Homo sapiens: one gene and its partners. Each later gene encodes a partner of the first gene's protein in a complex. Each region holds a gene or a part of one and is shown on either strand. Other genes may lie near its edges. A codon is read from its position in the direction of its gene.

Region 1 (9,664 bases):
TGTCCTCCAGAGAGCAGCCCGGATCCGGGGCTGGCATCATCCTTCCCTGCAGGCAATTACTCTCACCGGAGGTAATAATCAATCGCAGCAGAGAAAGCAGCAAAACCTCCACAACCAATGGCCCCAGCCTTTAAGCCAGCTGTCAAACAAACAGAAAGAACATGACCTGTGGTGACAGCTGCTGGGTCACGAGGCACTCACGGAAAGTTGGCACACCCTCAGTGTCATGAAATGAGCTTAAGCACTGTAAGTCATTCAAACGATCATAGCTCTGGAAGACATCAATGAAGCAGTGTATATGATCTAATCCAGTGCGCTTTATCTAACTACATTTGTTTAGCTTTTCTCCTTCAAAGGGTATTTCTAGTCTTAGGGAAATAGCCCCTCGCAGGCAGGAAACTGGTTGAGAGAAGCAGCCCTCGGAATCAAATGAAAGCATATGGCCTTGACCCTGATTTGTTTATGGAATACATTCCTGGGAAGGTGATCAAAGCAGTACTGGAGACAGCAGAGCTTCTCAAAGAGGCCCTGGTGAAGCTGAACAATGGGACGACCGGCGGAGAAGTCAGTCCGTCATCATAAATGGTGCTTGAGGAGCAAAACCAGGTTTCATGACAGCAAATCATCCTGTCTCTCAGAAGATGAGAAAACTGGCTTTTTGCTCTGGGTAAGTTAGGGCATGACAGATGGAAAGTGGCCCAGTGATAAAACACTGCTGCTTCTAGGAAAGTCAAGTCACCAAGGCCCTCCACCACGCTCTGAATGGACATGCCAACGGGGAGAAGAGGCAGCAAATTGGTTTTCTTTTTTTTTTTTTTTTTGCAGCTGATAATCTAATATTTCTAGAATATCTGTACTTAGCATTCAATGGGTAGAAATCAGAATCCCCAAGGGCAGAAAGATATTACCATTATAATTTATATCTAAAATTAAAAGACAATTGTCTAGAATTACTGAGAAAAATGTTGGCCACACGTGGTGGCTCATGCCTGTAATCCCAGCACTTTGGGAGGCTGAGGCAGGCAGATCACGAGGTCAGGAGTTCGAGACCAGGTGAAATTGATCTCTACTAAAAAAATAAAAATTAGCTGAGCATGGTGGCGGGTGCCTGTAATCCCAGCTACCTGGGAAGCTGAGGCAGGGGAATCGCTTGAACCCAGGAGGTGGAGGTTGCAGTGAGCTGACATCGTGCCACTGCACTCCAGCCTGGGCGACAGAGTGAGATTCGGTCTCTTTAAAAAAAAAAAAGTTGTTACAACGGACGGGGGTGCTACTTGCATCTCGTGGGTAGAGGCCAGGGATACTGCTCAACGTCTTAGAATGCACAAAACAGACCCAATCCCGACAAAGATTCGTCTGGTCGAAATGTCAGTAGTGCCAACGATGGGAAACCCTCATCTAGATCCTACAAGTTTCCAAAACCGAGTTACCACAGAAACAAACATGATTTATTTGTCAGAGGGAAGAAGATCAAGTGTCCCTGGAACACTCGTGTGTTTGGAAATGACAACCTCAGCACGTTGTCCAAGGCCACAAAGAAAAAGCATTCGAGAGCCGTTTACTAACCTCTGAAACCAATAGCTCCTCCCGTGATGCAGCCACTGATGACACTGTTCTTCCAGTCTGATGTTCCCCGGTACTGTGGGCAGGGAAGTACACGTTAGAGCCAAAGAAACAAGCCAAGGCAGACCATTAAGGAGGAATACACAGGGTTGCTCGTTAGCTCATTCAGTCCCTACCCAAAGGAAACCTAATCTTTCTTGAAAATATAGTTCCTAAGTATACAGCGTGTATATATATATATATATATATATATATATATATATAGTATGCGTTCATAGATGCTTCCTGCAGGTGGCACCAGAGTGCTGAAACCAAGCCCAGCATTTGGAATGTAATCAAAATTTCTTCAAGGGGCTCTCCAATAAGTCTCGTTTAAAATCATTAGCTAACTTCTAGCCTACAAAAAGTAAAAAATAATGCAAGCCCATACTGTAAACACACACAAAGTCTGCCACAGGGACTATTTTATGGAAGTTCAACCTAGAATGTATCTGATGCTTCTGATTTGCTTTCTAGTAACAACTTTCAAATGACTTTTAAAGAGCAATTTCTCTTTAAAAGTAATGAAATGGTGGCCCCAGCAAGGATTTCTTAGAAGGCAGAGACACTTACAGATTCTATCAAACACTCAGTACAAGAAAACATGGCTCCCACAATGGCGAAATTTTTGGCATAGGACATTCCTCTCTGCCCCATGTCTTTCAGCACTTCTTTTGCAGTCGGTGTACGGTAAGGATCCTTAGGGTCAAAGCCCACGTTGGTATCGATGCCAGCGGTAAACACCCCAAATGCACCTCCTAAGACAAATCCTAGAAGCAAACACAGAGATGAAGGTGTCTTTGGCATGTTTTCTGCATTACTCTATTGGGATCATCCTGGAAGGGACCATGCTTTTGGATGACCACCGGTGCAGAGGACACCCCCCTCTTGCCACTCAAACTCTCCACTTGCCTGGAGACTTGCAATCCAGGGTCTATGTTACTGACATCATCTTCTCCGTCTCTAAGATTTCTTCCTCCTGTCATTCCCTAACATTTCTCAAGATTCCATCTTTAACCCTCTATTCTCTCTACATTCTCTCATATGTAAACCAGCCACCCTCAACTTCAGCTATCAACTTTGCAAATCACTCTCTTGGCCACTGTGACATTCACAGTAATGCTTTACTGAGCACATGCCAGTATGCCACAGCCTCATTCATTCTTCACAATAATCCAGTGAGACAGATGCTATTAGCCTCTCCTTTCTATAAACTGAGGCTCAGAGAGGTTAAGCAACTTCTCCCAAGGCCACACAGCTACCTAATGGCAAATCCCACACTGCTGCCACATCTGTCCTTCCTGAGCCGGCTGGACATGTCCAGATGGATGCCCTCTCATGACCTCATGGTCAATATGAGTTTAATAAAATCATGGGCACCTCCCCTTCAACTTAAGGGAAAAACAGAAGGACAAGTGCAGACTTCGTCTCTCCTTGCTCGGGGCTGTCTAGTCACAATGGTCTTTCAGTTTTTCAAACCTCAAACAACTGCTGCCCTAGAGTCGTCTGCATGTGCATTTCCATATGTCTGCATCCTTCCTCTGCAGTGTTCCTGCTCAACATTCTTCTCCACATAGTATAATACAGGCCCCATGAAGACCAGGCTCTTGTCTCTTTCACCTGGCACGTGATATTGCTTAGGAACAATTTGTTGAAAGAATTATTTAAGAGAATGAATTTAAGGGAATGAACGGATGAATGAAGTCACCCACGTAATAACTTTTTGTTGTTGTTTTTGAGACGGAGTCTCGCTCTGTCGCCCAGGCTGGAGAGCAGTGGCACATCTCGGCTCACTGCAAGCTCCGCCTCCTGGGTTCAAGCGATTCTCCTGCCTCAACCTCCCGAATAGCTGGGACTACAGGCGCCCACCACCACGTCCAGCTAATTTTTTGTATTTTTAGTAGAGACGGGGTTTCACCGTGTTAGCCAGGATGTCATGTAATAACTTTCAGGCCCCAACCACAGCACCGATTCTCTAACCCAATTTTCATCAGGAAAGCCGGCCTGAGGGGGCAGGAGAGGTGACGCCCGATTCACGAACGAGGCGAGGGTGTGGTCAAGGTCAAGGCCCGCAGTCCCTCGCCTCCCAGGCGCGTGGTCTTCTCGGCAGAGATCCCCACTGCCGTCCAGGCCCTCAGCCTCCCAAGGGTCCCATCGCCCGGCCTCACCTCCCACGCAGGCCAGCGCAGCCTTGAAAGCGCAGCTTTCCATCGCCTTCTCGATCATCTTCTGCTCCTCACTCTTGGCTGGACTTGGGATCCCGCCCAGGCTCCCAGGCTCCAGGAGCCGGGGCTGACGCTTGTCACCCACCAGGTACTGCAGGAGCAGGCTGTACTGCAGCGGAGCTTCGGCGGAACCCGCTGTCTCAGGGGCCGAGCCTCCGGCATTGGGGGCGGCCGCCGCCATGACAGTCGCTGCCCAAGCAACCCTCGCGTCCTTCTCCCCGCAGCAGATTCGACAAGCGTCACGTTGCGGGCCCTGAGACTAGCCACTGTGATGCAACGGCAGATTCGCCGCAGGAGGAAGCCGCGGCCGCAACGCTCCTGGTGCGCACACCAGCGAGACCGCTATCATGTTTCCAAAAAGAAAGCCTCTTGTGAAAATGGAATTGGGCTTGGACAGCTTTCCCCATGTCACAGACAAACGAGATTCAGATTCACCAGAAAGCGCCCTCACGGTCGGGGCTGCAGCGCGGTGAGTACCGGGATTTGTAGTTCTAATCCGACACCCAACTACATTTCCCAGGAAGCGTTGCGCGTGCTCTCGCGCCTCGGCCCCGCGCGGGGCTCTTACGAGCTCCTGAGGGGAGCGAGGAGTGGCCGCGCGCTCCGGGGCTGCCGTGCTCCGGATCGCCGGGAGGGGACGCGCGAGCATTGTCGCTGCCCTTTCCACCTCGTGCTGTCATCGGGCGGTGAGGCGTTAAATCCCGTGGTCCCGGAAGGTGCGGTGAGAGGTGGATGCTTTGTAGATAAGCGTGAACTTGTGCTGTAAATGCACGGACCGGGCGCGGGGGCTCACGCCTGTCATCCAGCACTGTGGGAGGCCGAGGCCGGTGGATCACGAGGTCAGGAGTTCGAGACCAGTCTGACAAACATGGTGAAACCCCATCTCTACTAAAAATTAAAAAAATAAAAAATAAAAAAATTAGCTGGGCATGGTGGTGCACGCCTGTATTCTCAGCTACTTAGGAGGCTGAAGCAGGAAACCCCGTCTCTACTAAAAATATAAAAATTAGCCAGGTGGCGGCAGGCGCCTGTAATCTCAGTTACTCGGGAGGCTGAGACAGGAGAATCTCTTAAACCCGGGAGGTGGAGGTTGCAGTGAGCCAAGATCGCACCATCGCACTCCAGCCTGGGCGACAAGAGCAAGACTCCGTCTCAAAAAAAAAAAAAAAAAAAAAAAAATCCTAACTGACAGCATTTGCTGACTTGTGTGGTGTTAATATCCCCATCATGGCTGATTTCAAACTACCAAGCGAGGTCATCAGTCAGAATTGGGAAGACGTACAGCAGCATGTGGTTACATGGTGTTTCTATCACACAGATACAATCTATGGAAATAACCTCAACAGCATAGATAGGAGTACAGTGTAGTAAAATTTTTAGGAGGGGATGAGTTTTGAGCACATATTACCTATTTTTAGTGTAATTTATTATAAATGTATAGAATGTAATTTTTAATAATAACTGTGCTTAACAACCAGCTCAAAAACTCCTGATAATTTGTTGCCTTACTTTTTAAAATTACTCTTTTGAGACAGAGTCTTGCTCTGTCACCCAGGTTGGAGTGCAGTGGTGCAATCTCCGCTCACTGCAACCTGCACCTCCCGGGTTTGAGCGATTCTCCTGCCTCAGCCTCCCGACTAGCTGGGATTACAGGCACATGCCACCATGCCCGGCTAATTTTTGTATTTTTAGTAGAGACAAGGTTTCACCATGTTGGCCAGGCTGGTCTCAAACTCCTGACCTCAGGTGACCCACCCACCTCGGCCTCCCAAAGTGCTTGGATTCCAGGCGTGAGTCACTGCGCCCGGCCAGTTAGGGCCTTTTTGTTATTGTTGTTAAACATTTACCATTATACCACTGCACTGCAAGCATATTTTGGGAACCAAGAACACTTCCTCCTCTTTGAGGAAACCAGAATTGGGGCCTGGAGGCAGAGAAATTGGGAATGGATTTCTGGTCATATCCAGGAAAATCCTAGGGGATGTTGGAGAGAGGTTTTCAGTCCCAAGAATGCTAACACTTTGGCATCATTTTGTACTCCTCGTATGAACAAAACGTGGCCTGGGAACACCTCTGGGCATTTAAGCACACTTTTTGCTAATGGCCTGAAGGCAGTGCCGTAGCAAGCATCTGCCTACTTGGGCCAGGGACTCTCAGAAGATGTTGATCGGAAAAGATTCCTCTGCTGGGCATGGTGGCTCACACCTGTAATCCCAGCACTTTGGGAGGCTGAGGCAGGAAAATTGCTTGAGTCTGGGAAGTTGAGACTGCAGTGAGTCATGATCGTGCCACTGCACTCCAGCATGGACGAGGGAACGAGACCCTGTCTCAAAAAAAAGAAAAAAAAAAGATTAAGTAAACAGTGGTCATTTTATTCAGAGGGCTGAAAAACAATTTCCATCAAGGGCTGCGAAAGGGCTGGGGTGTTCCATAGCCCAGGAGCCTCACAGGTATGTCTGAGTTGTAAGAGGAAGTGAAGTGTCCTTCTTTTAAGGGTCTTGGCTGGGCGCGGTGGCTCACACCTGTAATCTCAGCACTTTGGGAGGCTGAAGCAAGGTCAAGAGATCGAGACCATCCTGGCCAACATGATGAAACCCTGTCTCTGCTAAAAATACAAAAATTAGCTAGGCATAGTGGCTGCACCCCTGTAGTCCCAGCTACTCAGGAGGCTGAGGCAGCAGAATCGCTTGAACCCACGAGGCGGAGCTTGCAGTGAGCCGAGATGGTGCCACTGTACTCCGGCCTGGAGACAGACGGAGACTCCGTGTCAAAAAAAAGAAAAAAAAGGTGGGGGTTGGGTCTTTGGGGTCCCAGAGAAGAAATGGGTGGGACCTAAGGAGCCATACTGGAAACCATACTTTTGGGACATGTTGCCCGAGATGAGGATGGAATACCCCACCCGGCAGAAATGGAGACCAGACAGCTGCACAGTCTTATGTGAGGGTGGATTATGTGAGGTGGATTATGTGAGGGTGGATTATGTGAGGGGTGGATTATGTGAGGGTGGATTATGTGAGGTGGATTATGTGAGGTGGATTATGTGAATGTGGGTGGATTATGTGAGGGTGGATTATGTGAGGGTGGATTATGTGAGGGTGGATTATGTGAGGGTGGATTATGTGAGGTGGATTATGTGAGGGTGAATTATGTGAGGGTGGATTATGTGAGGTGGATTATGTGAGGGTGGATTATGTGAGGTGGATTATGTGAGGGTGGATTATGTGAGGTGGATTATGTGAGGTGGATTATGTGAGTGTGGATTATGTGAGGGTGGGTGGATTATGCGAGGTGGATTATGTGAGGTGGATTACGTGAGGGTGGATTATGTGAGGGTGGATTATGTGAGGGCGGATTATGTGAGGTGGATTATGTGAGGGTGGGTTATGTGAGGGGTGGATTATGTGAGGTGGATTATGTGAGGTGGATTATGTGAGGGGTGGATTATGTGAGGTGGATTATGTGAGGGTGGATTATGTGAGGTGGATTATGTGAGGGTGGATTATGTGAGGTGGATTATGTGAGGTGGATTATGTGAGGTGGATTATGTGAGTGTGGATTATGTGAGGGTGGATTATGTGAGGGTGGATTATGCGAGGTGGATTATGTGAGGGTGGGTGGATTATGCGAGGTGGATTATGCGAGGTGGATTATGTGAGGTGGATTATGTGAGTGTGGATTATGCGAGGGTGGATTATTTGAGGGTGGATTATGTGAGGCGGATTATGTGAGAGTGGATTATGTGAGGGTGGATTATGTGAGGGTGGATTATGTGAGGTGGATTATGTGAGGGTGGATTATGTGAGGGTGGATTATGTGAGGGTGGATTATGTGAGGTGGATTATGTGAGGGTGGATTATGTGAGGGTGGATTATGTGAGGTGGATTATGTGAGTGTGGGTGGATTATGTGAGGTGGATTATGTGAGGGGTGGATTATGTGAGGGTGGATTATGTGAGGTGGATTATGTGAGGTGGATTATGTGAGGGTGGATTATGTGAGGGTGGATTATGTGAGGTGGATTATGTGAGGGTGGAGTGGCTCTTAGCTTTTCTCTCTGAATCACTTTCCCCACAAGAGGACATTTATCGTCTGGCCTGGTCTGACAGATGGAATAAGGCTTGACGTCGCTGGCTGCAGCAGATGGAAACAAGGCAGGGGGCGTGGGGCCTCCAGCCGTGAGTCGTGGGTTCCCACGGGCAGCCGGTGATAAAGAGCACTCCAGGCTCCGGATGGGGTCCTCCAGGCCCAGCCCTGAGCACCGTCGGTCCCTCCCTTCTGTCTCCACAGTGAAGGGCACGTAATAGCATCATCTGTTCATCTTCATAGAGTATTGGCCTGGTGAGGGGCTGGGCTTACTGGAGGTCCGTGAGGCTGTCCTAAACCATCACTGAGAACCAGGTGGTTAAGCTGCTGAGCGCAGAGTTAGTTTCTGACTCAGAAAGGTCTGAGGTGGGTGTGAAATTTTGGATTTCCCAGGTGATGCTACTGCTGGTTGGGGACCACATTTTTTTTTTCTTTTTTCTGAGATGGAGTCTCGCTCTGTCGCCCAGGCTGGTGTGCAATGGTGCGATCTCAGCTCACTGCAACCTCCATTACCCAGCTTTAAGTGATTCTCCTGCCTCAGCCTCCTGACCCCAGCTACAGGCGTGAGCCACCACGCCCAGCTAATTTTTTTGTATTTTTAGTAGAGACGGAGTTTCACCATGTTGGCCAGGCTGCTCTTGAACTCCTGACCTCAAGTGATCTGCCCGCCTTGGCCTCCCAAAGTGCTGGGATTACAGATGTGAGCTGCCACACTCAGACCCTTGTGAACTTTTGCTAGTAATTCTTTTTTCTTCTCACAACACTCCACTCATGCCCCTCAGCTCTGTCTTTAAATATTCCTGCCCTTCAAAACTTACCTTTTCTGATTAATCTAATTGGAAGTAATGTCTTCTCTGAGCCTCTTTTTTTCTTTTTGAGACAGGGTCTTTCTTTGTGGCCCAAACTGGAGTGCAGTGGCCCCATCATGGCTCACTGCAGCCTCGATCTCCTGGGCTCAAGGGATCCTCCTACCTCGACCCTGCCAAGTAGCTGGGACCATGGGCATGTACCACCATGCCGGGGTAATGGGCTAATGTTTTTTTTTTTTGAGATGGAGTCTTGCTCTGTTGCCCAGGCTGGAGTGCAGTGGTGTGATCTCGGCTCAGTGCAAGCTCCGCCTCCTGGGTTCACGCCATTCTCCTGCCTCAGCCTCCCGAGTAGCTGGGACTACAGGCGCCCGCCACCACGCCCAGCTAATTTTTTGTGTTTTTAGTAGAGACGGGGTTTCACCGTGTTAGCCAGGATGGTCTCGATCTCCTGACCTCGTGATCCGCCCACCTCAGCCTCCCAAAGTGCTGGGATTACAGGTGTGAGCCACCGTGCCCCGGGCTAACTTTTAAAAACCTTTTTTATAGAAACTGGTTCTTACTCTGTTGCCCAGACTGGTCTCAAACTCCTGGGCTCAAGCAATCCTCCCACCTCAGCCTCCTAAAGTGCTGGGGTTACAGGTGTGAGCCACCGTGCCCCGGGCTAACTTTTAAAAACCTTTTTTACAGAAACTGGTTCTTACTCTGTTGCCCAGACTGGTCTCAAACTCCTGGGCTCAAGCAATCCTCCCACCTCAGCCTCCCAGAGTGCTGGGGTTACAGGTGTGAGCCACCGCACCGGCCTCTTAATTAATAGGCTCTTAACTGGTTTTGGAGCCTCCTACCTTGCTCTTCTCCAAACTATTCACAGAATGATCTTCCCACACAGGACTGTGAACGTGCTCCCTGCTCTGGATTCTACTTCATGCCAGGATAAAATCTGAACTCA
Region 2 (9,012 bases), on another chromosome or scaffold:
CACTACGGGAGCTAGGGGCCCGCCCCGCGGACTGACAGCACCAGGAAACCAAATGATGTCCCTGCCCGCCGCCCCCGCCGGGCGGCTTTCCCCCTTGTACTGGAGAAGCTCGAACACCCGGTCACAGCTCTCTTTGCTATGGGAACTGGGACACTTTTTTACACGATGTTGCCGCCGTCCCCACCCTAACCCCCACCTCCCGGCCCTGAGCGTGTGTCGCTGCCATATTTTACACAAAATCATGTTGTGGGAGCCCTCGTCCCCCCTCCTGCCCGCTCTACCCTGACCTGGGCTTGTCATCTGCTGGAACAGGCGCCATGGGGCCTGCCAGCCCTGCCTGCCAGGTCCCTTAGCACCTGTCCCCCTGCCTGTCTCCAGTGGGAAGGTAGCCTGGCCAGGCGGGGCCTCCCCTTCGACGACCAGGCCTCGGTCACAACGGACGTGACATGCTGCTTTTTTTAATTTTATTTTTTTATGAAAAGAACCAGTGTCAATCCGCAGACCCTCTGTGAAGCCAGGCCGGCCGGGCCGAGCCAGCAGCCCCTCTCCCTAGACTCAGAGGCGCCGCGGGGAGGGGTGGCCCCGCCGAGGCTTCAGGGGCCCCCTCCCCACCAAAGGGTTCACCTCACACTTGAATGTACAACCCACCCCACTGTCGGGAAGGCCTCCGTCCTCGGCCCCTGCCTCTTGCTGCTGTCCTGTCCCCGAGCCCCTGCAGGTCCCCCCCCGCCCCCCCACTCAAGAGTTAGAGCAGGTGGCTGCAGGCCTTGGGCCCGGAGGGAAGGCCACTGCCGGCCACTTGGGGCAGACACAGACACCTCAAGGATCTGTCACGGAAGGCGTCCTTTTTCCTTGTAGCTAACGTTAGGCCTGAGTAGCTCCCCTCCATCCTTGTAGACGCTCCAGTCCCTACTACTGTGACGGCATTTCCATCCCTCCCCTGCCCGGGAAGGGACCTTGCAGGGACCTCTCCCTCCAAAAAAAGAAAAAAAGAAAAAGAAAGAAAAAATAAATGAGGAAACGTGTTGCAGCACAGGCAGTTTTCTTCTCCTTCTGCTCCCCTGTTTCTCATACCCCCAAACTCAGATGCTGGAGCTCAGGCCCGCCGTGTGTGCACCCAGGCAGGAGCGGGCGCTGTCCAGGCTGGGCCGCCCCCTTGGCTCTCCCTCCTGTTCCAGGGGAGCCATAGGAGGGAAAGCAGGTGGCCCGGGGGGGATATGGGGGCCCCAGCCCTGTCCCAAAGCTCCCTGCTCGGCTGCCCCTCGCCCGCCTTTATATAAATTCTCTGAATCACCTTTGCATAGAAAATAAAAGTGTTTGCTTTGTAAGAAAAGTCTGGAAAGTAGCAGAATCATCTCAAGGTGTCAAAGGAGCCTTCAGTCATCGTCTGGGGGGCAGGACAGGCAGAGGGGTTGGTCCACTTAGGTGTTGCCTGAAAGAAAGAATTGTCTGGGAGTGGCCCCAGAACCTCTCGCCTTGACTGGGAGTGGGAGGGCAGCCCCCTTAGCCCAGCTGGGAATAGTCCTTACCTGTGGGACCCGGGCCTTCCTAGGAGGGGGCCAGGGACTGCGGCAAGGTAGGGGACAGCGCGATGTTTGAGGGCAGAGATGTGATTTGGGGTGGAGGAGCCACGTTCTCCGGAGGCAGCGACTGGAAGAAGTACAACTGCACAAGACCCCTGGGGTCAGAGGCAGGGCCAGCCCATGCCCCCCTAGCCCCTCGGCCCCACCTGTGGCCACCCCAGACCCGTACCTTACAGCCCATGGCCAGGAGGGCGTGGAGCAGCACGACCACGGACAGCAGCACTGTGGCCACCAGCCTGGTGTCCTCACGGACCACGGGCCAGAGGGTGAATACCAGCCCGGCGGCTGACAGGCCCAGGGCCAGCGCCCCAAAGAGCCACTGCAGCCAAGGCACAGGGATGAGCCACAGGACCTGGGAGCAACACGGCGGCAGGTGACCATGCCAGTCCCCCCAGCCACCACCCACTCTGCACCAGGCCACCCTCACCACCATGGGAATGAGGCGGCAGGTGACCATGCCAGTGTCCCCACACAGCCACCACCCACTCCGCGCCAGGCCACACTCACCACCATGGGGATGAAGACAAAGAGGGAGTAGCCGTAGATGCACACAGTCTCCAGGAAGGTGTAGGGCCCCATGCGCTCCTGGACACCCTTGCGCCACCGCAGGAAGCCCCACAGGGCCAGGGGCACCAGCCACGCATAGCAGTAGATGCTGATGCCTGCCACGGTCACTGGGGGGGGCAAGGTGAGCAGTCACCCCCTGTACCCCAGGGCCCTGCCAGGCATTGGGCCTGCCCGTCTGCTTACCCTTGTGGAACTGGGGGCTGTAGTGGATGGAGGGGTCCCTCCTCTGGGCCAGCACCAGCGTCAGGTTGCCAGTGACGGCCAGGACAAAGGCCAACGTGGCACAGATCCAGAAGGGGCCTGGGGGTAGGGGGCACAGTCAGGGTCCCGGGCCCTGCACTCCCAGGACAAGCAGACATGTATCCTGACTGAGCTGTGCTGAGACCCCAGCCTCTTCCTAAGCACCTTGCCTGACTCACCAGGACACCGGGGGCCTCCTGGTGGCTGAGCCCAGTGCTGGCTGTCAGTTCATCCCCCTCCCCGAAACACTCAGGACTGCACACCCTTGGCCTGTGTCTCACCTCATTGGTGCCAATTCCTCAACCCCTGTCACCTCCTCTTTGACTCTCTGACCCCTTCAGCCATGGGGAGCAGCCAGGCCCAGTTCTTGGCCCCTTCCATGTCTGCGTTCACCCATAGTATGACCTCCTTCAAGCCCAGGGCCTTATGCCTCCTCTAGAGCCCAGGGCTCTGCCCTGAGCACTGCAGGCTCCAGTTCAAGCTCCCGGGTGGGCATCTCCGGCTTCATCCACACCCTTGCCCTCTGCCCTCACTGCCAAGCTGGTCCCGTGGATACGTGGCAACTCTATCCATCCCGTTAGTCCAGGCAGAAATCCCTAGAGCCTGCCTCCGCTCCTAACCTCCCACTCCCCCCACCCCCACCTATCTAGCCACAAAGCCAGTCTCTTCTACTTCCCCAGCACGTTCCAGAATCCAGTGCCACTCTCCACATCCACAGTCCCCACCATGTGGCCGCCTCCACCCCAGCCTCCTGGCTTCCGCCCTCGCCACTCATGATGGCGAGAGGGACCCCGAAAACACTTAAAGATCCATTCTCGGCCAGATAACAGTGACTCACACCTGTAATTCCAGCACTTAGGAGGCCGAGGCGGGTGGATCACCTGAGGTCAGGAGTTTGAGACCAGCCTGGCTAACACGGTGAAACTCCGTCCCTAATAAAAATATAAAAATCAGCCGGGCATGGTGGCACGTGCCTGTAATCCCAGCCACTCAGGAGGCTGAAGCAGGAGAATCGCTTGAATGCGGGAGGGGAAGATTGCAGTGAGCTGAGATCACATCACTGCACTCCAGCCTGGGTGACAGAGTGAGACTCTGTCTCAAAAAAAAAAAAAAAAGATCTCTTCTTGCCACAGCATGGGAGGCTTGTGTGATCTGTCCCCTCGCCTGTGACCTCCCTGCAGCTCACTCGCTCCAGTGGTAATGCCGCCCTGCAGTTCATGCAAGTTCCTGCCATGAAGCTTACGTCGTTTCTGGAAGCCTCTTTTCCTAGGTCTCCCCCACCCCTCCTGTTGCCAACAAGGCTCATTCCCTCACCCTCCTCAGGGAGGCCTGCCCTGCTGCACCCTGCAGAACTGCAGGGCCACTCCTCCTGTCTGCTCTGCTGCTCTCTACCCGCCACCCTCTGCAGTCCTTCATGTCTCTGTCTCCCTGAACAGCAGGTAAGTCACACTGTCTGAGTGACTGATTTGTCCGCAGCTATACACTGGCATCTGCAACTCAGGCCACACTTGTTGAGTGATCCATCAAGGAACCAAATGCACAACCTCACTCACCATACAGATCCGGCCGATTCCGCAGATGGTGCCGCACAAAGTTGTGGCCAGGCCGGGGCAGCAGTGAGCCTTTGATCCGGTCCAGGACCTGGGGGCAAGGCCAAGGTCAAGGATGGAAGTCTGCCAGGAGCTTCTCCCTTGTCCTGAGAGGCTCCTTCCCTGCTGACCTCCACCCTTCTCTTTCCATGCCCCACCTGAAAGAACTCAGCCTTTCCCTCTCTTTTTTTTTTTTTTTTTTTTTGAGACAGAGTCTTGCTCTGTCGGCCAGGCTGGATGGAGTAGTGGCATGATCTCGGCTCACTGCAACCTCTGCCTCCCGAGCTCAAGCAATTCTCCTACCTCAGCCACCCGAGTAGCTGGGATTACAGGCGTGTGCCACCACGCCTGGCTAATAGTTGTATTTTTAATAGAGACGGGATTTCACCATGTTGGCCAGGCTGGTCTCGAACTCCTGACCTCAGGTAATCCACCCACCTCGGCCTCCCAAAGTACTGGGATTACAGGCGTGAGCCACCGTTCCCAGCCCCCTCTTTTTTTTCCCTCTTTTTTTTTTTGTTTTGAGACGGAGTCTCGCTCTGTCACCCAGGCTGGAGTGCAGTGGTGCCATCTCGGCTCACTGCAAGCTCCGCCTCCTGGGTTCACACCATTCTCCTGCCTCAGCCTCCCAAAGAGCAGGGACTACAGGCGCCCACCACCACCCCCGGCTAATTTTTTGTATTTTTAGTAGAGATGGGGTTTCACCGTGTTAGCCAGGATGGTCTCGATCTCCTGACCTCATGATCCTCCCACCTTGGCCTCCCAAAGTGCTGGGATTACAGGCGTGAGCCACCGCACCCGGCCTCAGCACCCCCTTTTTCTTTTTGAGACAGAGTCTCACTCTGTTCAGGCTGGAGTGCAGTGGCACGATCTTGGCTCACTACCACCTCCGCCTCCCAGGTTCAAGTGATTCTCGAGCCTCAGACTCCTGAGTAGCTGGGACTACAGGTGTGTGCCACCATGCCTGGCTAATTTTTGTATTTTTAGTAGAGATGGGGTTTCACCGCGTTGGCCAGGCTGGTCTCCAACTCCTGACCTCAAGTGATCCACCGCCTCGGCATCCCAAAGTGCTAGGATTACAGGCGCCGACCACTGCACTTGGCTAATTTTTCTATTTTATTTTATTTTTTATTTAATTTTATTTTATTTATCTTATTTTATTTTTGAGACAGAGTCTCATTCTTTTTGCCCAGGCTGGAGTGCACTGGCACGATCTTGGCTCACTGCAACCTCCGCCTGGCGGATTCAAGCGATTCTCCTGCCTCAGCCTCCAGAGTAGCTGGGATTACAGGCGCCCACCACAAAGCCCGGCTAATTTTGTTGTATTTTTAGTAGAGACGGGGTTTCACCATGTTTGGCCAGGCTGGTCTCAAACTCCTGACCTCAGGTGATCCACCCACCCAGGCCTCTCAAAGTGCTGGGATTACAGGCATGAGCCACCCCGCACCCGGCAGTTTTTGTATTTTTGGTAGAGACGGGGTTTCCCCATGTTAGCCAGGCTGGTCTTGAACTCCTCAGGTTATCTGCCCACCTCGGCCCCCTTAAGTGCTGGGATTACAGGCAGGAGCCACTGCGCCCAGTCCATCTTTGGTCTTCTGCATATGCTGTTCCCTGTGCCTGGAACATATACTCCTGCTTCCCTACCCTATTCCCCAGGGAAGCCTTCTGTCTCCTTTAGGTCTCAGCCAATTCCTCACCTCCCCCAGGAGGCCTTTCTCTAACCCACCAGATTGTGTGTGTCCCCTGTGTTCCCATAGTCCCGATCCATAACCAGTCCCACCATAACCCTTTGAGAGCACCACAGTTCGTTCACCAGCACCCACCATCACCAGCACCCTGCCCAGGGGAAGAGTGGCTGAACCCTGAGCATAACTCTGAGCCCCATCCCACCTGCCTCCCCAGCCTGACCTGTGAGGTGTCCACGTCAAAGAAGCTCTGATAGTAGCTGAAGGTCCAGAATCCCGGCTGCTGCTGCTGCTGCTGCTCCTGCAGGAGCTGCACATTGCGGGCATTCAGTGCCTGCCCGGAGAGCCTGGGTCAGCTGGGGGCTGCAAGGAGGCAGGACACAGGGACTCACCGCGGCCTTGTCACTCTCCTCCTCCACCTCATCCTCGGCTCCATAGCTGCCACCTGAGCCCACGGCCACAGCCACGTGCCCTTGTGGGGTCAGCTGATCGCTTCTGCTGGTGGTGGCTGCATCTGGGGTGTCAGCCAGAAGATTAGTGGCCTCCTCGAATTCTGTGGAGGAGGTATATGGGACACACGCACGTTTGAGGGGTGGAAAGAACTCGACTGGGCCCAAGCTAAACCGATGCTCATCTGGGGGCGGAGGCTCTGCTGAGCCATTGATCTCCCCCAAGGTGGGGCCCAACTTCCTCAGTTTGGAGGCATCCGGAGGACATCTGTTCCCTTCCTCCTAAAGTGGAACTGCAACTTAGGGTTGACGCTGGGATGGGGTCAGGGTCTGGGGACGAGAGGCTCGGGTTTGAGGTCTGAGTTCAGGGCGGGGGCGGGGTTCGAGTCAGAGATGGGTCTCACTCCTGGGTCAGGGTTCACAGCCGCCTAGGCTTCGGGGTAGAGAAATTGGAAGCCGTATCGGGGGGAGGTTCTGGCCCGGGGCGGGAGTGGGAGATCCGGCCACGTCGGGGCCGCACTCACCATGGAAGGTCAGCTCGTCGGCCGATGCCATGGTCGTTCAGGGGCGTCTCCGCATCCCTCGCTGAGGACAGAGACCGGTCAGGCACACTTCCCCCCCGCCCCCGAGCCGGTCCCTCGGCCCCCAGCCCTACCTGGCGACCAACTGCACCCACGGAGGCTTGAACTCGTCGTCCCGTCCCCACAGGTGCGCTCCGCCCCCCCTCACCTGAGGCCACCTGGGCCGGCGTGGCTGGGGCTCTCTGCGCCTGCGCGTCTCGCCTACCCGTCAGACTCCAACCGACTCAGACCTGACAGCAACATCCGGCGCCTGTCCTCTTTCTATCCTCTCCCGTTGGGAAGCCACTTCCGGTAAAGTTGGCGCTTGCGCAGAAGAGACTCCCGGGCTCTTAACGTCGGGTATCAGGAGTTTCTTCCCGGAGCAAGGACCCCCAAGACGGAAGAGGATGGCCGCGGCGGCTCTGAGGAGATTTTGGTCCCGGCGCCGCGCAGAGGCGGGCGACGCGGTAGTGGCGAAGCCGGGAGTGTGGGCGCGGCTGGGTGAGTAGCGGCGGAAGGCGGCAGGGTGGGTGGCCGCCGCGACAGGGTGGGTGGCCGCCGCGGCCGGATCACTCTTACCGCGCTCCTCTCCCCTCAGGGTCCTGGGCCCGCGCGCTGCTCCGGGACTACGCCGAGGCCTGCAGGGACGCTTCGGCGGAGGCTAGGGCCCGGCCGGGGCGCGCCGCTGTGTATGTGGGTCTGCTGGGCGGCGCGGCGGCCTGCTTCACGCTGGCGCCCAGCGAGGGTGCCTTCGAGGAGGCGCTGCTGGAGGCGTCGGGGACCCTCCTGCTGCTGGCGCCGGCCACCCGCAACCGCGAGTCCGAAGCCTTCGTGCAGAGGCTGCTCTGGCTGCGGGGCCGTGGCCGCCTGCGCTACGTCAACCTGGGGCTCTGCTCGCTGGTGTACGAGGCGCCCTTCGACGCCCAGGCCAGCCTCTACCAGGCGCGTTGCCGCTACCTGCAGCCCCGCTGGACCGACTTCCCCGGCCGGGTCCTGGACGTGGGCTTCGTGGGTCGCTGGTGGGTGCTGGGGGCCTGGATGCGCGACTGCGACATCAACGACGACGAATTCCTGCACCTGCCGGCGCATTTGCGGGTGGTCGGGCCCCAGCAGCTGCATTCCGAGACCAACGAGCGGCTCTTCGATGAGAAGTACAAGCCTGTCGTGCTCACCGACGATCAGGTGGACCAGGCGCTGTGGGAGGAGCAGGTCTTGCAGAAGGAGAAGAAGGACAGGCTCGCCCTGAGCCAGGCCCACTCGCTGGTGCAGGCGGAGGCCCCGAGATGAAACCCTGAGGCCCCCGAGTCCTGGCAAACTGCTTGCCTGGGGTGGTGCAGTTCTGAGTGTGCCTCACCTGCAGAACAGCTGAGACAGATGATGTGCAAAGTGTTTTCTCACTGGATTTGCACAAGTTTGGGGAGCCTTTCTGCCCCCCGTCTTTGTTCTTTATTAGCTGAAGCTAATTCAGAGCCACCTGGGTCCGGGAGTTGGGGACAGCAGAACGACTTGACACATGTTCATCACTGGCAGAGCTGGTCATGAGCCTTTTATATAAGCCTTTTTCATCGGGCCTCAGAGGCCCTCCTTAAGGAGGTACCACATTGGTCAGCTGACTTGCAAACTCTTCTAAGGCCACTTAGATTTTCTTTTTCAAGTTTGGGTTGTGGCCTGGCATGGTGATGTCTGTAATCCCAGCAGTTTGCAAACTGAGGCAAGAGAATCGCTTGAGGCCAGGAGTTTGAGGCCAGCTAGAGTGACATAGCAAGACTCCGATGCTACAAAAAAGAATAATAATAGTAATTAACTAAATAAAATTTGAGCTGAAATGTTTTTATTCTATGACCTATTCTCTCTCGTTTTTTTTTTTTTTTTTTTTGAGACAGGGTCTTGCTCTGTTTTGCCTGCTGGAGTGCAGTGGTGCAATCTCGGCTCACTGCAACCTCTGCCTCCCAGGTTCAAGTGATTCTCCTGCCTCAGCCTCCTCAGTAGCTGGGATTACAGGCCTGTGCCAACATGCCTGGCAAATTGTTGTATTTTTAATAGAGATGGGGTTTCACCATATTGGCCAGGCTGGTCTTGAACTCCTGACCTCAGGTGATCCACCTGCCTCGCATTTCCAAAGTGCTGGGATTATAGGAGTGAACCACCACACCTGGCCTTTCATTTTGATAAGTAACATTTTTGCCATTCCCAGCTCTTTGGAAGGCTGAGGTAGGAGGATTGCTTGAGATCAGGAGTTCAAGACCAGTTTAGGTAAAATAGTGAGAGCTTTCTCAAAAACTAAAATATTTGGAAGGGTAAAGCAGGCAAATCATTTGAGCTTAGGAGTTCAACACCAG
Region 3 (9,251 bases), on another chromosome or scaffold:
CTGGTTACTTCTTTCCCTCAGTAGGCCCTAAGCACTGTGGGCAGGGACCGTGTTTTATTCACTGATGTTTCCCCAGGGCCTAACGCAGTCCCTGGCAAATGAAAGCACTCAGTAAATATTTGCTGTATGAATGAATGCATGATGAAGGTCAGCAAACCCAACCCCCTCTGGATCTGGTGCTCTTAAGATCCATAGCTATCTTGGTGCTGGCTAAAGGACAAAGCTTTGGCTCCAACTGAGGCTGGGAGAGAAGACTGGGCCTTCAAACCATCTCTGAAACCTGTGACTTCAGCTGCCTGGCCCCAGCTCTTTTGACTTGATAGGGTTCTGGTGTTTGATTAGACTGAGCTTGTCTCCACCCAGGCCACCCTCCTAGAGTCCCCGACAAATTGACCTCGCTGGGCCTGCTTTTATGAAAGGTTTATTCCTAGTGCTAGATCCCAATCTTCTTGGGCTCTAAGCACAATTAAACTGGGTGGGTGGGTGAGGGTAGGCCTATTCAGATGCAAGGCCAGCAATGGGGCTCCCCATTATCCCCACCCCTTTGGTCCCAGTCCCCTTCTCTGCAATGGGCACGCATAGAGGAGAGACAAAGGGTATTAGACGCAACATCATTGGCCCAGGGGAGTCCGAGAAGAGCTGCCATTGGCTGACAGGGCATTTTCAGGCTCTGTCATTGGTCAGGGAGCACACCCCAGCCTGAAGAGTGATGCCATTGGCCAGGGAGTGGTTTTGTCATAGCCGTTGGCTGTGAAGTGGAAGGAAAAGATCTGGGAATGAAGCCCTGTGGCCAGGAAGATAGACAGGGCAGCAACTTCTGGGCCTCCAGGCCCTCTTCCCACCATAGCAATGTGGGCAAAACTGGTGTCAGGCCCCAGCCAGAAAAAGGAGCCCAAGCCAGAGGGCAAGTGACAAAGGATGTACCATGTCCAATCTCCCACACCCTGGGGCTGCCCTTCCCAATGTCTTTCTTGATAGCCAAGTTGGGCTGGGAGCAGCTCACTGCTCCTCTAGCCAGGAGGGTTTCTCAGCTCCTGGAGGCCGCAGCTTGATGTTGAACTGCTGCAGGGTCTGCTCCAGCTGTTTCTGGTTCCCAGCAAAGTAGGCGGACACAGCATTGTGGAAGAGCAGCAGCTGCTTGTGCATCACCTTGATCTGGGGGTCCAGCAGGGTCAGCTAAGGCTGGACTCAGGCGCCCTTCTTGAGGGTCTATGAGCCTGAGCCCAGGCACAGACCAGGGGCACAAGGACTCTGCTCTGATGGTGCTTTTGGGGTAGGGGCTGAACTCTACCCAGGGAGTCAAAGGAGAAGGGTCAGTATGATGGAAGAAACCTCACTGGATTTGTGGGCCTAGGGTTTTTGTACCCCAGCTCAGGGGGTGATTTTTCCCAGTTATGTTCCTGGGACCAGCAGCCAAATCCTCCAACAGGAAAGGGCCAGGAATTGGAGGGAGGGTGATCTGGAAAGGCCCAGGGGTTGAGGGGGTGAACACTCTACTCCCCAGCTAGGCTGCATTTCCTCATTCAATAATGGGGAGGGTCTGAGGGGAAGGTTAGTGTTACAGATGGAAAGGTGGGCTAGGGTCAAGGGGGTGGGGTTGGCACCTTGTTTTCTTCCAGGAACTTGAGCTTGATGGCCACATCTCCCCGCAGCTTCTCATACTTGTCCCGATGGGCCTGGAAAGTGGCCTGGGCACTCTCAAGTCGACCACGTGTCCCTGCATCCCGGGGGCCTAGACTCAGCTCCTCTAAGTCTGTTCGGTAGGCATCATATTCCAGCCTGGGGAGGGGGTGATAAAGGCTGGTCTCCACTCCTTTATCCTCAACACATACTCTCCTTTCCTTCCTGAATTCTTATGCCCCTAATGCCCAAATTTCCACCCATACCAGCCAACTCCCCAAACCCTAAGCCCTGCCAGTGCCCACACCTGGCAGCCTCATACTGTTTCACAGTCATGAGCGTGTCTTCCATGGTCTTGGTGACCAATGTGTTGATGCTAGAGACAAAGAAGTTCACGGCTCCTAGCAGCGTTTCCCCATTCTTGCATAGTAGTTTCTGTGTCTCTGCATTGTAGCCAAATTCCTCCTGAGGGCAGAAGGGAGGAACAGACCTTGAATAACACTCCCTACCTGACTGAAGCTGTAGAGCCCTTCATTCCCCTCCTCCCCGGGGAGGACACAGCCAGCAAAACTGGAACAACCAAGGACTGCCTCCAGCAAGGCTCTCTTAGCCGGAAAGTTAGTGGGATCACCCTGGGGATACCTGGGGTAGGAATGTGGGTGGTGGGCATTCTTGGGTAAGTTCACAAGACTGGAACAGTCTGAGAGCTAGTGTGGCAAGCAGGGGAGGGGCTCTGATTAGGCTGAGCACGAAGGCATTCTCCCCAGTGCAGAGAGGGGTTATTTGTGAGGCACCTAGTGTGCCCCCTCCCCCACCCCCTCCAACTTCTGGACCTCTGTACAAACCCTTAGGCTGCCTCCACAGGTGAGTGCTGCTGGGGGTAGGGCTGGGCCCACCCTGAAGGGGTTCTCCCTGTGGGCTGCAGGAGGGAGGGAGGATGAGGAATGACTGCCTGGGAGGGCCCATGCCCAGTTCCCCCACCCTCTTTGGTCTGGGTGAGGCACCTGAAGCTCTGGGGACTTCTGGCTGAGGTCAGCAAAGGCATCACCCAGTGCATGCTGGGTCTGCAGCAGGCTGTAGAGGTGGGCTGTCAGTGCCCGGCCCAGCTGCAGGACACTCTCATACTTGCGCTTCGTCTCACGCAGCAACTCAATCTGCAGCTCTAGCTCCAGGTCCACAGTCCGTGAGCCTCGACCAAATCGTTCTGATAACAGTTGCTTTGTGCACTGATTGGGAAATGGGGGAATAAATCAGAGACCCTAACAGCCTCCCCACACAACAGGTATCTACCCCAGCACCCCCCAGGCTCCTACTCTCAGCCACAGATGGGATATTACGATCACGAAGAAAAGGGAAAAAGGTACCCATAAGGAGTTTTGGGGAAGGGAGAGGTGCTTAAATCCTACCTTATAGGTGTTGATGCCCCATTTCTTGACGATGTCAAACTTTTCTCCAGCAATGCCCCGAGCCACCTCATCTCCAGGGCCAGAAGGAGTGGTGCTGTGAGATGGATGGCGGCCAGACCCTAAAGGATCAAGTTCTCTGACACCAGCCTCTCTCAGATACACCAGACACCTCTGTGGCCCCACCCATACTTCTCTTCGAGCACATGAAATTGACTTCCCTGAAGGAGATGCTAGAGACAACTGGATGCTCCTGCTTACTAGGAGGAACTCGGACTTTGCGCGGTGAGAACCAAATCCTGATATACATATGGCCTCCTTGGGGGTTAGAGGAGGGGTTTGCAGGGAGTTGTTGGTGTACAGGGGCAGAGGAAACAGAAGAAAATACACTGAGTTTGGGGGCAGCAGGAGTCAAGGATGGTGGGTCATGATAACAAGAAACCTGGTTGCATTCCCATGTGGAATCTTAGTGTGAGATTCAGGGCTGTTTGTTCCTCTAAACTTTAGAATCTAAAAATTCTGAGAAGCTTCACAAAGTTCCAACTCAGCCTCAAGCTGTAGAGGGGGGGCATTCCTGTGAAGCAGGTCTTAACTTGACTCAGGTGGTGGCAGGGAAAGGACAAATGAGCCATTTCAGGGGCTAAGTGGCAAAAGGGAAATGGATGGACAACGCTGGGAGTTGCTTTTGGGCTGAGGAGAGTCCATGAGGTTCCTACAAGCAGAAGTTCCCAAGATCTCCAGACATAATTCAAGCTTTCCTAGACATATCCTATGCTTCCCCAAACCATTCCTGTCCCCTCCTCCACCCAAGATTCCTGTTTCTGAACATTCATACCTGTGGGGATGAGTCCATCACCAGAGCCCCCATAGCCACCAGACACAATGCTGGTTTCATTGAGGTTGGGTCCTGACACCATCACCTGCTGGAGGTCCTATAGGCCAGAGAAGAGGGGTTGCTTCAGGAACATAGGGGCTGCAGAAGCATTTTGGAGGTGGGAACAAGTTTGGATTCAAGCATCATAAAGATAGTACACAAGGGAAGTCTGCACAGAATCAAAATGATACGTAAAAAGAATGAAGGGAGTCAGATAAGTCAGGGGAAGGCTACTGGAATGGAGGGTGAGAACCTAGGATTTATAAATTGGATTCCTAAATTGAAACAATTAGAAGAATCAAACAGAAGCACCTGCTCCAGCCCATCATCTTCAGGAAGCTGCCTGGCTTCGCCGTTCCCGTGGATAGGGATCTCCATTGTGGCTGCCTTCCCTAGGATCCCGTCCGTCATGGCTAGGAAAGGTATTGGAGTAAAACTCTCCACCCCAGCACCCTGCAAAGCCCAACACAGAAGTTCTGGACACTGGCCAGCACTCTAGAAGAAGGAGGCCTCCTCTGTCATTTCTTTAAAGGCTGTCCCAGGGTTTGAGTGTCCCAGCGTTTGGCCATCATTCCTTTCTTCAGATATATGTATTTCTCCCCTCCAAAACGCACATTTGAAACAGGCACACCAAAGCACGGTGTCTTCTCACAAGCCCCCAACCTCACCAGGACTCTGGTGATTATTTCTACACTCATTCAGCAGACATTTAGTGAGTGCCTACTATGTGTCAGGCACTATTTGTGACAATGAAAATACAACAGTGAAGAGGGAAAGTCTGCTCTCTTAGAACTTATCTCCATGCAGGCGTGTTTATGCTGAGGAGATGAACCCTTTCCAGGGCTCAGGTCTTCACCCCCCTATTCAGGTTTGTTCTCCATTGCTTGGCCTTTCACATTCCTTTAGCGTTTCTTCCCCCTTCCTTCAGGGGGTCTCCCCTCCTCCGTCTCATACACCTCGTCTTCCTCGGGCCCTCCCCACCAGGCCTTAGTTAGATCAGTGGGTGTATGTTCCCAGTCTCTGGTAAAAGCCTCTCTCTCCCAGGATATCGGTGACCCTTCCACAGTCAGTTATGTCTCCCAGGTGTGTGAGTCCCCGCCCCCACCCCCATACACCTGGACATCAGGTGTGTCCTCATCCTTCCCCGGGGCTCGGGGCATCTTGCCCTCTGGACAGGTTTGTGCGTTCAACTTCCCGTCGCCCAAGCATGTTCCTCTCACCTCGGGCCGGGCCGCTCTTCCCCTCAGGGCGCCAGGCCCGGGCCGCGCGGGGACCTCGGGCTCCAGTTCCCGTCGCGATCCTAGCAGCAGGTCAGGGACTCGGCGGAAATGACGTCCTCTCCGGGCAGAAGAAGCCGGCCACGTCGCAGATTATAAGGGCGGAGCTGACGTCGCAGCCAGGGCAGGGCGATACTCGAGCTAGCTCTCGAGATCAGCGAGAGGTTACTTCCGGGGCGGCACCGAGAAGCTGAAACGGAAGTGGCGTACGGCATGCGCCGGTGGCGTGATGGAGCGGCAGCAGCAGCAGCAACAGCAACTGCGAAACGTAAGTGAGAACTAAGTCGTTTCGAGGCCAGACGTTCAGCTCGCATTCCTGCACACATCGCGGGAACCCCACAGGGCCAGGGATTTGAGGGCTGGAAACTTCGGGCTATGGCGCGCGGGCCTGGGAAACTTTGGGCGGCGCGACCTTGACTAGAAGTGTGGGGCCCTTATCGCTGAGTTTGTGGTCCCCCTTTTCTCTCAGCTGCGTGACTTCCTGTTGGTCTACAATCGGATGACAGAACTCTGCTTCCAGCGCTGTGTGCCCAGCTTGCACCACCGAGCTCTGGACGCTGAGGAGGTGGGGAACTGTGTAGGGAGGTTACGCTGCAAGAAGAGTTTAGCGGTAGACTGCTTCCCTCCTCACCCCACTTCCCGTACCTCTGGCCCTGGCCTTCCCACGACCCTCACCCCTAGGCTGGGCATGGGGAAGAAAGGAGGCGGACCCGACAGGGCACCTTTATCCTCCACTTAAACCCTATCTTCCTTCTAGGAGGCCTGTCTGCACAGCTGTGCTGGGAAGCTGATCCATTCCAACCACCGCCTCATGGCCGCTTACGTGCAGCTCATGCCTGCCCTGGTACAGCGCCGCATCGCAGACTACGAGGCTGCCTCGGCTGTGCCAGGCGTTGCTGCTGAACAGCCTGGGGTCTCTCCATCAGGCAGCTAGCCATACCCAACCCCAGGAAGGAAGGCCTTGGATGGACCCTCAGATTGAAGGACCCGGTGGACCTTGGGGTTGGTGAATCCTAAACAGAGAGAATTCGAGGTTGCCTGAAAGCTGGGTGTCCTTGCTCCTTTTCCTGGAGCCAATATACCCAGTTTTTACTCAGTTTGATTTATATTCTGGGCAAGGAAGCTTTGCCTACTTTATTGGCACAATCCGTTGTTCTGTCGTTTAGTGCATATCTGCTGGCTTCAGCCCTGGCAGCTGAGAAATTGTTTTCTATATGTAGAAGGAAAACCTGAGCATTTGCAGGCATCTGGTTAAAGCAGGGTCTGTGTGTACAATTTTAAAACGGGTAATATGTCATGCTCTTAGTTCATCTTCACAACAAAACTATGAGTAAGCGGTATTAGCCTCACTTAACAGATGAGGAAGCAAGATTCCAGAAAGTACCAGAAGGTCATTTTATACAACAGGAGATTGGTTCCTGCCCAGATGACAGAAAATGGGAGCTCTGTCTAGTTGTCCTTAAGTCTGACTGACTTCAGTGGCTCATAACCGTGAGCCAAGTATTTGTTGGTTCATAACTGTTGTTTTGTGAACTATGTCTTACATGTCTAGAGTTCTGCTGGATCTAGGGAAAGGAGGAGCTATCGAAGTACAACGGATCAAAAAACCACAGGGCTTTTGGGCACTGCCTCCTTGGGAAGTTAGTGGCCACAGAAGAGAGATGAAACCTGTAAGAAGTCTGGAGTCTTTTGGAACTTCAGCCATTTCCCCAGGTTGTTACTTTCTTAGTATGTACAGTCTTCTCAGGATGAGCAGTAAAACCTTTGAACAAAGGTCTGTGTGGTTGTCTTCACGGGCAATCAGGAAGGGAGAGAGCTGGGGACCATATTCTGCAATGCAGCCAAATCCGAGGAAGAGAAACTGAAGGGAGAAGTAGATGGCAATGGTTATGATAAAAAGGGATAAAACTAAATCTTCGGGACTTCTTTAATGCTACGTTAATGTTTCACTGCTCGTCTAGAAACTCCTAAATCCAGCTTTCTATCATCTGCCCCACATTGGTCCCATTGAGTACATTCTGTGATTTCTAATTCCAGCCTCTCCATTCTTTTCTCATTATTGCCTCCCCCGCCCCCCAACTTTGTGTAATTTACTTCTGTATTCAGCAGCCTGGATAGCATATCATTCCATCACCCCATTTTCTTGCCACCATTGGCCATCTTTTTGTATCATTCCACTTATTCTGTCTTTTCCATTCCTTCATTCAAACTGCTAGAGAAAAACAGTTGTGTAATGAATGCCACTAAATATTCAAGGCCTCCAACCTCAGCCAAGTCCTCACACCAACACGCAGTCACACCAACACACACCTTTATGGGTTCCTGGTCCATTTCCTTCTCTAATTACCATGGCAGTTATTTTACACCTCTACTGCTGTCCTTAATCCCATACCCCACCCTCATCAGGTGACCCTGTTTCCTTTTTTAGAGAAATTGAAGCTCTTAGACATTGGTTTCCACAGTAATAATTTTAAAACTTCTTACAACTACCTACAAAGCAGATGTTCTATCCTATCTACAGAGCAGAAAATTGAAATTCTCAAGTAGCAGACCCGGTATTAAAGTGCAGATCTGACTTTAAAGTCCATGTTCATTTTACACAGCAGGCTGCCTCTTAAGATAGTATTTATTGAGCACACACTTTGTGTAGGTTCTGATTTTGGTAGATGTCATGCTTTATATTAATCTTTACAACAACTATAAGTAAGAGGTATTAACCTCACTTAACAGATGAGGAAGCAAGAATCCAGAATGTGCCAGAAGGCACATTCTGCAGATTTCGTGCAAACATTTATACACAGCTTCTTTTTTTTTTTTTTGAGACAGAGTCTCGCTCTGTCACCCAGGCTGGAGTGCAGTGGAGCGATCTAGGCTCACTGCAACCTCCGCCACCCGGGTTCAAGCAGTTCTCCTGCCTCAGCCTCTCGAGTAGCTGGGATTACAGGCATGCGCCACCACGCCCAGCTAATTTTGTTTTTGTATTTTAAGTAGAGACGGGGTTTCACTGTATTGGTCAGGCTGGTCTTGAACTCCTGACCTTGTGATCCGCCCGCCTCGGCCTCCAAAAGTGCTGGGATTACAGGTGTGAGCCACCACGGCCGGCCTATACAAAGTTTCTTATTGAGAAAAGTGGTTCCAATCATGTTTTTTGCCCCCTTTAGCTGCTATCTCTTGAACAGAAAAGTTTGTTAGGAAGGTAAAAGTTGCTGACTAGGACCTTACCCACAGGGTGGCACTCTGTCCTTGGGAAATATAAATGCAAGTAAAACAGGTTTGAACTTCTTAACTTCCAGAAGATAGGAGGATGGGACCTGTGATACTGTGCTGCTGGTGGGAGGACCCTTCCACATCAACATTTGTGTGTATCCTTGCAATAAACTTCCATTGTGAATTATCTGTGCTTCCCGTCCTTCCATGTCACACAATAGTAATTGCTAAAGAAGAGCTAGGAGCATAGATCTGTCTGATTCTAAAGCCTTTGCTCTTTGAACTTTGAGAGCTTCTATCTGTACTTAACCTGCCTCTAGGCATGAAAAAACAAATGTCCCTCAGTCTGACCCATCTCTTAATCCCTTTCTTAAAATTTCAATCTCTTGTCCTGGTTCTTTCCTGTTTATAAATATGTTCAGTGTTCAGGAGAAAAACCTTATTCCTACCACTTTACCTTCCATAATCTGGTCTTCCTCAGGTTTTACCATAAAGTGATAGCCATTGGCATAATCGGAGCAATGTGATGTTCCAAGCACAACACTAAAGAATAAATGTTGACAAGCTTTATCATGTTATCATAAATGTAAACGTTGGAGATACTTTGTTGTTCCTGCCATTGTGGCTTCAGAACTGCCCACTCCTTTGCAAAGCCTCATTCTTTTGAGGCTGTTCATCCATACAACCCTCTGATTACTTGTCTACCACTCTCATTTACTACTACTCTCCTGCTACTTTAAATAGCTAGCCCTTGGTCTTCCTGTCCACTCCTTGATATTTTAACATTTACATAGACAATTCATTTGGTGTTTTGTCTCCTAGTTATTTGGCCCAATCTCTGATGATTTCCACTCTGTCTTGGCCACTCAC
Region 4 (2,537 bases), on another chromosome or scaffold:
TATCATATTTGACTGTCAGCTTTTGAACAAAACACAAACATGAACTCCATTACAGTATAACAGTCAACTCTTAAACATTCCCAAACTAGGGCAGATGGGATTGTTTCCTGAAGATATACGAAAATGTAGGTAAGATATGTGGCCAGGCGCGGTGGCTCACGCCTGTAATCCTAGCACTTTGGGAGGCTGAGGCAGGCGGATCACCTGAGGTCAGAAGTTCGAGACCAGCCTGGCCAATGTGGTGAAACCCCATTTCTACTAAAAATACAAAAGTTAGCCGGGCATGGTGGCACACACCTGTAATCCCAGCTACTTGGGAGGCTGAAGCAGCAGAATTGCTTGAACTGGGGAGGTGGAGGTTGCAGTGAGCTGAGATTGTGCCGTTGCACTCCATCCTGGGTGACGAAAGCAAAACTCCGTCTCAAAAAAAAAAAAAAAGAAAAGTATATGTAATGCCCACCCTGACACAAGGGAGGCAAGAAAAGGATCATGCATTGAAATGATTAGCAAGTAACTATTTTATGTATTCACCAGCAATTTGAGGCAGACATGAATGAACAGGACTGCTTGGAGGATGATCCTGATTGAAAAACATTTCAACGTATCCACAGTCCAGTGAGAATACTATGGTACCATACAGTATAAACAACTGCTCAGTGATATTTCCATTTATTTTACTTTGAGTAATAAAAATTTTTCTATCTCATACATGATCGAACACATAAGTTGCTTTAAAATTAACAGTCACAATTGAAGAAACAATGGTTTATTTTTCTAATCAAGTGACCAAGCTGCTGAATCATAAGGCCTCAACAAATGTTGCATCTTATTATTTCACTGAACAATAAGACCTTCTATTGTGATTATTCCTGGTAAATAGCAATTTTGTTTCTCCAGCGGTTTCCATTTGCCAAACAGTCATGACAGATGGTTGAACATGGTGGCTACTGCTTTCAGGGGATTCTATCAGATGAGTCCTCATTTCCAATAAAGCAGCTGTTGGCAATCTTTCATCAAAAGTTCATCCATCAGGACTTCTCTATCGTGGTTGGCCAAGGAGTCCTGCTTTGGCTGCCAGGGCTTCATTCTGCTGAATATGATATTCCTGAAATCTCATGGATATTCTTTGTGTCATTTTTAAATATTTCTGTAAGCAATGTTCTGAACAGGTGGTCTAGGAATGAAAAGGGAAGATCCAAGAGGCAACACAAAAATATGAATTTTTTAAAATGCATGTATTCTAAAAGAATCAGTGGGGTAGTTTGCTTTTCTTTGAATATATCTGAGAATTAAATAGTACTAATTGGCAGCAACTGACCATAGCTTTTAATTGATACTTTCATTCACTGACAAGCATTAATATATATTGAATGCCTGCCAGTTTGTAGTCACTAAGAGCAATGATAAGTCTCTGTTTTCAAAAAGCTTCTGGACTAGATTTTCTGCAAGTGTATTAAGTGAAAGCCCACATTCCTGTCTTCTTGTTTCGATTATTAAAATGTAGACCCAGTAGTAAGTTTGTTCCTTTTTAATGAGAAAACAACATTCTTAATTCTCAACCTTTTACTTATTTTAATTTTATTTATTTATTTATTTATTTTTGAGAGGGAGTCTCGCTGTGTCACCCAGGCTTGAGTGCAGTGGCGTGATCTCGGCTCACTGCAAGCTCCGCCTCCTGAGTTCACGCCATTCTCCTGCCTCAGCATCCCGAGTAGCTGGGACTACAGGTGCCTGCCACCATGCCTGGCTAATTTTTTGTATTTTTAGTAGAGACGGGGTTTCACTGTGTTAGCCAGGATGGTCTTGATCTCCTGACCTCGTGATCCGCCTGCCTCAGCCTCCCAATGTGCTGAAGTTCCAGGCGTGAGCCACCGCGCCCAGCCTATTTATTTATTTTTTTGAGACAGGTTCTCTCTCTGTTGCCCAGGGTGGAGTGCAGTGCCTCACTGTGGCCTCAACCTCCTGGGCTTAAGTGATCCTCCTACCTCAGCCCCTGGAGTAGCTGAGACTACAGGCACACACCACCACGCCTGGCTAATTTTTCATTTTATTTTTTAGTAGAGATGAGGGCTGGTGCTTTTTGTTGTTGTTGTTGTTGACAGGGTCTTGCTCTGTCGCCCAGGCTAGAGTGCAGTGGTGCAATCACAGCTCACTGCAACCTCTGCCTCCCGGGCTCAGGTGACCCTCTCACCTCAGCTCCCGAGTAGCTGGGACCACAGGCATGTACCAACATGTCTAGCTAATTTTTTTTTGTATTTTTTGTAAAGACAGGGTTTCACCATGTTGCCGAGGCTGGTTTCGAACTCCTGGGCTCAAGTGATCCACCTGCCTTGACCTCCCAATGTGCTGGGAGTTCAAAGTTACAGTGAGCTATGATTATGCCATTGCACTCCAGCCTGGGTAACAGAGCGAGACCCTGTCTTAAAAAAATAGTTAAGACTTCTAATAGGATGAGGTTTTCAATATGAGCCACCAAAGTCAAGCTTTGTTTTTTCCAAAGCCAACCAGAATTCCCAGGGCCATACAGAAAGGCTGTG

The links.
Region 2: TIMM22 (region 1) and TIMM29 share a complex: the UniProt entries of both Homo sapiens proteins name them as parts of the TIM22 complex.
Region 3: TIMM22 (region 1) and TIMM10B share a complex: the UniProt entries of both Homo sapiens proteins name them as parts of the TIM22 complex.
Region 4: the proteins of TIMM22 (region 1) and TIMM9 are in contact, whole or in part, in a cryo-EM structure (PDB 7CGP), measured with the Homo sapiens proteins. Residues at the interface, in NP_037469.2 of Homo sapiens: Asp35 (codon at 3,906), Arg37 (codon at 3,900), Gln38 (codon at 3,897), Pro39 (codon at 3,894), Arg40 (codon at 3,891), Leu42 (codon at 3,885), Gly45 (codon at 3,876), Ser46 (codon at 3,873), Leu47 (codon at 3,870), Gly49 (codon at 3,864), Ile50 (codon at 3,861), Ser52 (codon at 3,855), Pro53 (codon at 3,852), Lys60 (codon at 3,831); in NP_001291414.1 of Homo sapiens: Gln13, Glu16, Phe17, Thr20, Leu57, Thr60, Gln61, Met65, Phe67, His71, Gln74, Asn75, Leu78, Lys81.

Annotation. Positions count from the first base shown.
Region 1 is NC_000017.11:991,487-1,001,150, reverse strand, and holds the start of TIMM22 (mitochondrial import inner membrane translocase subunit Tim22), read right to left. Parts: upstream 4,023-9,664; 5' UTR 4,009-4,022; coding exon 3,771-4,008; intron 2,373-3,770; coding exon 2,176-2,372; intron 1,640-2,175; coding exon 1,567-1,639; intron 140-1,566; coding exon 63-139; 3' UTR 1-62. UniProt on the Homo sapiens protein: Essential core component of the TIM22 complex, a complex that mediates the import and insertion of multi-pass transmembrane proteins into the mitochondrial inner membrane. In the TIM22 complex, it constitutes the voltage-activated and signal-gated channel.
Region 2 is NC_000019.10:10,921,743-10,930,754, forward strand, and holds TIMM29 (mitochondrial import inner membrane translocase subunit Tim29), read left to right. Parts: upstream 1-7,068; 5' UTR 7,069-7,080; coding exon 7,081-7,174; intron 7,175-7,271; coding exon 7,272-7,960; 3' UTR 7,961-8,512; downstream 8,513-9,012. Other genes in the region: histone-arginine methyltransferase CARM1, read left to right, coding at 1-15; protein YIPF2, read right to left, coding at 1,549-1,665, 1,753-1,935, 2,091-2,257, 2,334-2,450, 3,944-4,031, 5,888-5,974, 6,057-6,217, 6,638-6,668. UniProt on the Homo sapiens protein: Component of the TIM22 complex, a complex that mediates the import and insertion of multi-pass transmembrane proteins into the mitochondrial inner membrane.
Region 3 is NC_000011.10:6,476,114-6,485,364, forward strand, and holds TIMM10B (mitochondrial import inner membrane translocase subunit Tim10 B), read left to right. Parts: upstream 1-5,387; 5' UTR 5,388-5,403; coding exon 5,404-5,442; intron 5,443-5,643; coding exon 5,644-5,739; intron 5,740-5,931; coding exon 5,932-6,108; 3' UTR 6,109-8,568; downstream 8,569-9,251. Other genes in the region: ARFIP2 (arfaptin-2), read right to left, coding at 1,000-1,155, 1,605-1,779, 1,928-2,085, 2,625-2,846, 3,027-3,244, 3,859-3,955, 4,210-4,308. UniProt on the Homo sapiens protein: Component of the TIM22 complex, a complex that mediates the import and insertion of multi-pass transmembrane proteins into the mitochondrial inner membrane.
Region 4 is NC_000014.9:58,407,995-58,410,531, forward strand, and holds the end of TIMM9 (mitochondrial import inner membrane translocase subunit Tim9), read right to left. Parts: intron 1,175-2,537; coding exon 1,040-1,174; 3' UTR 589-1,039; coding exon of another isoform or gene 535-588; 3' UTR 501-534; downstream 1-500. Other genes in the region: TOMM20L (TOMM20-like protein 1), read left to right, coding at 535-588. UniProt on the Homo sapiens protein: Mitochondrial intermembrane chaperone that participates in the import and insertion of multi-pass transmembrane proteins into the mitochondrial inner membrane.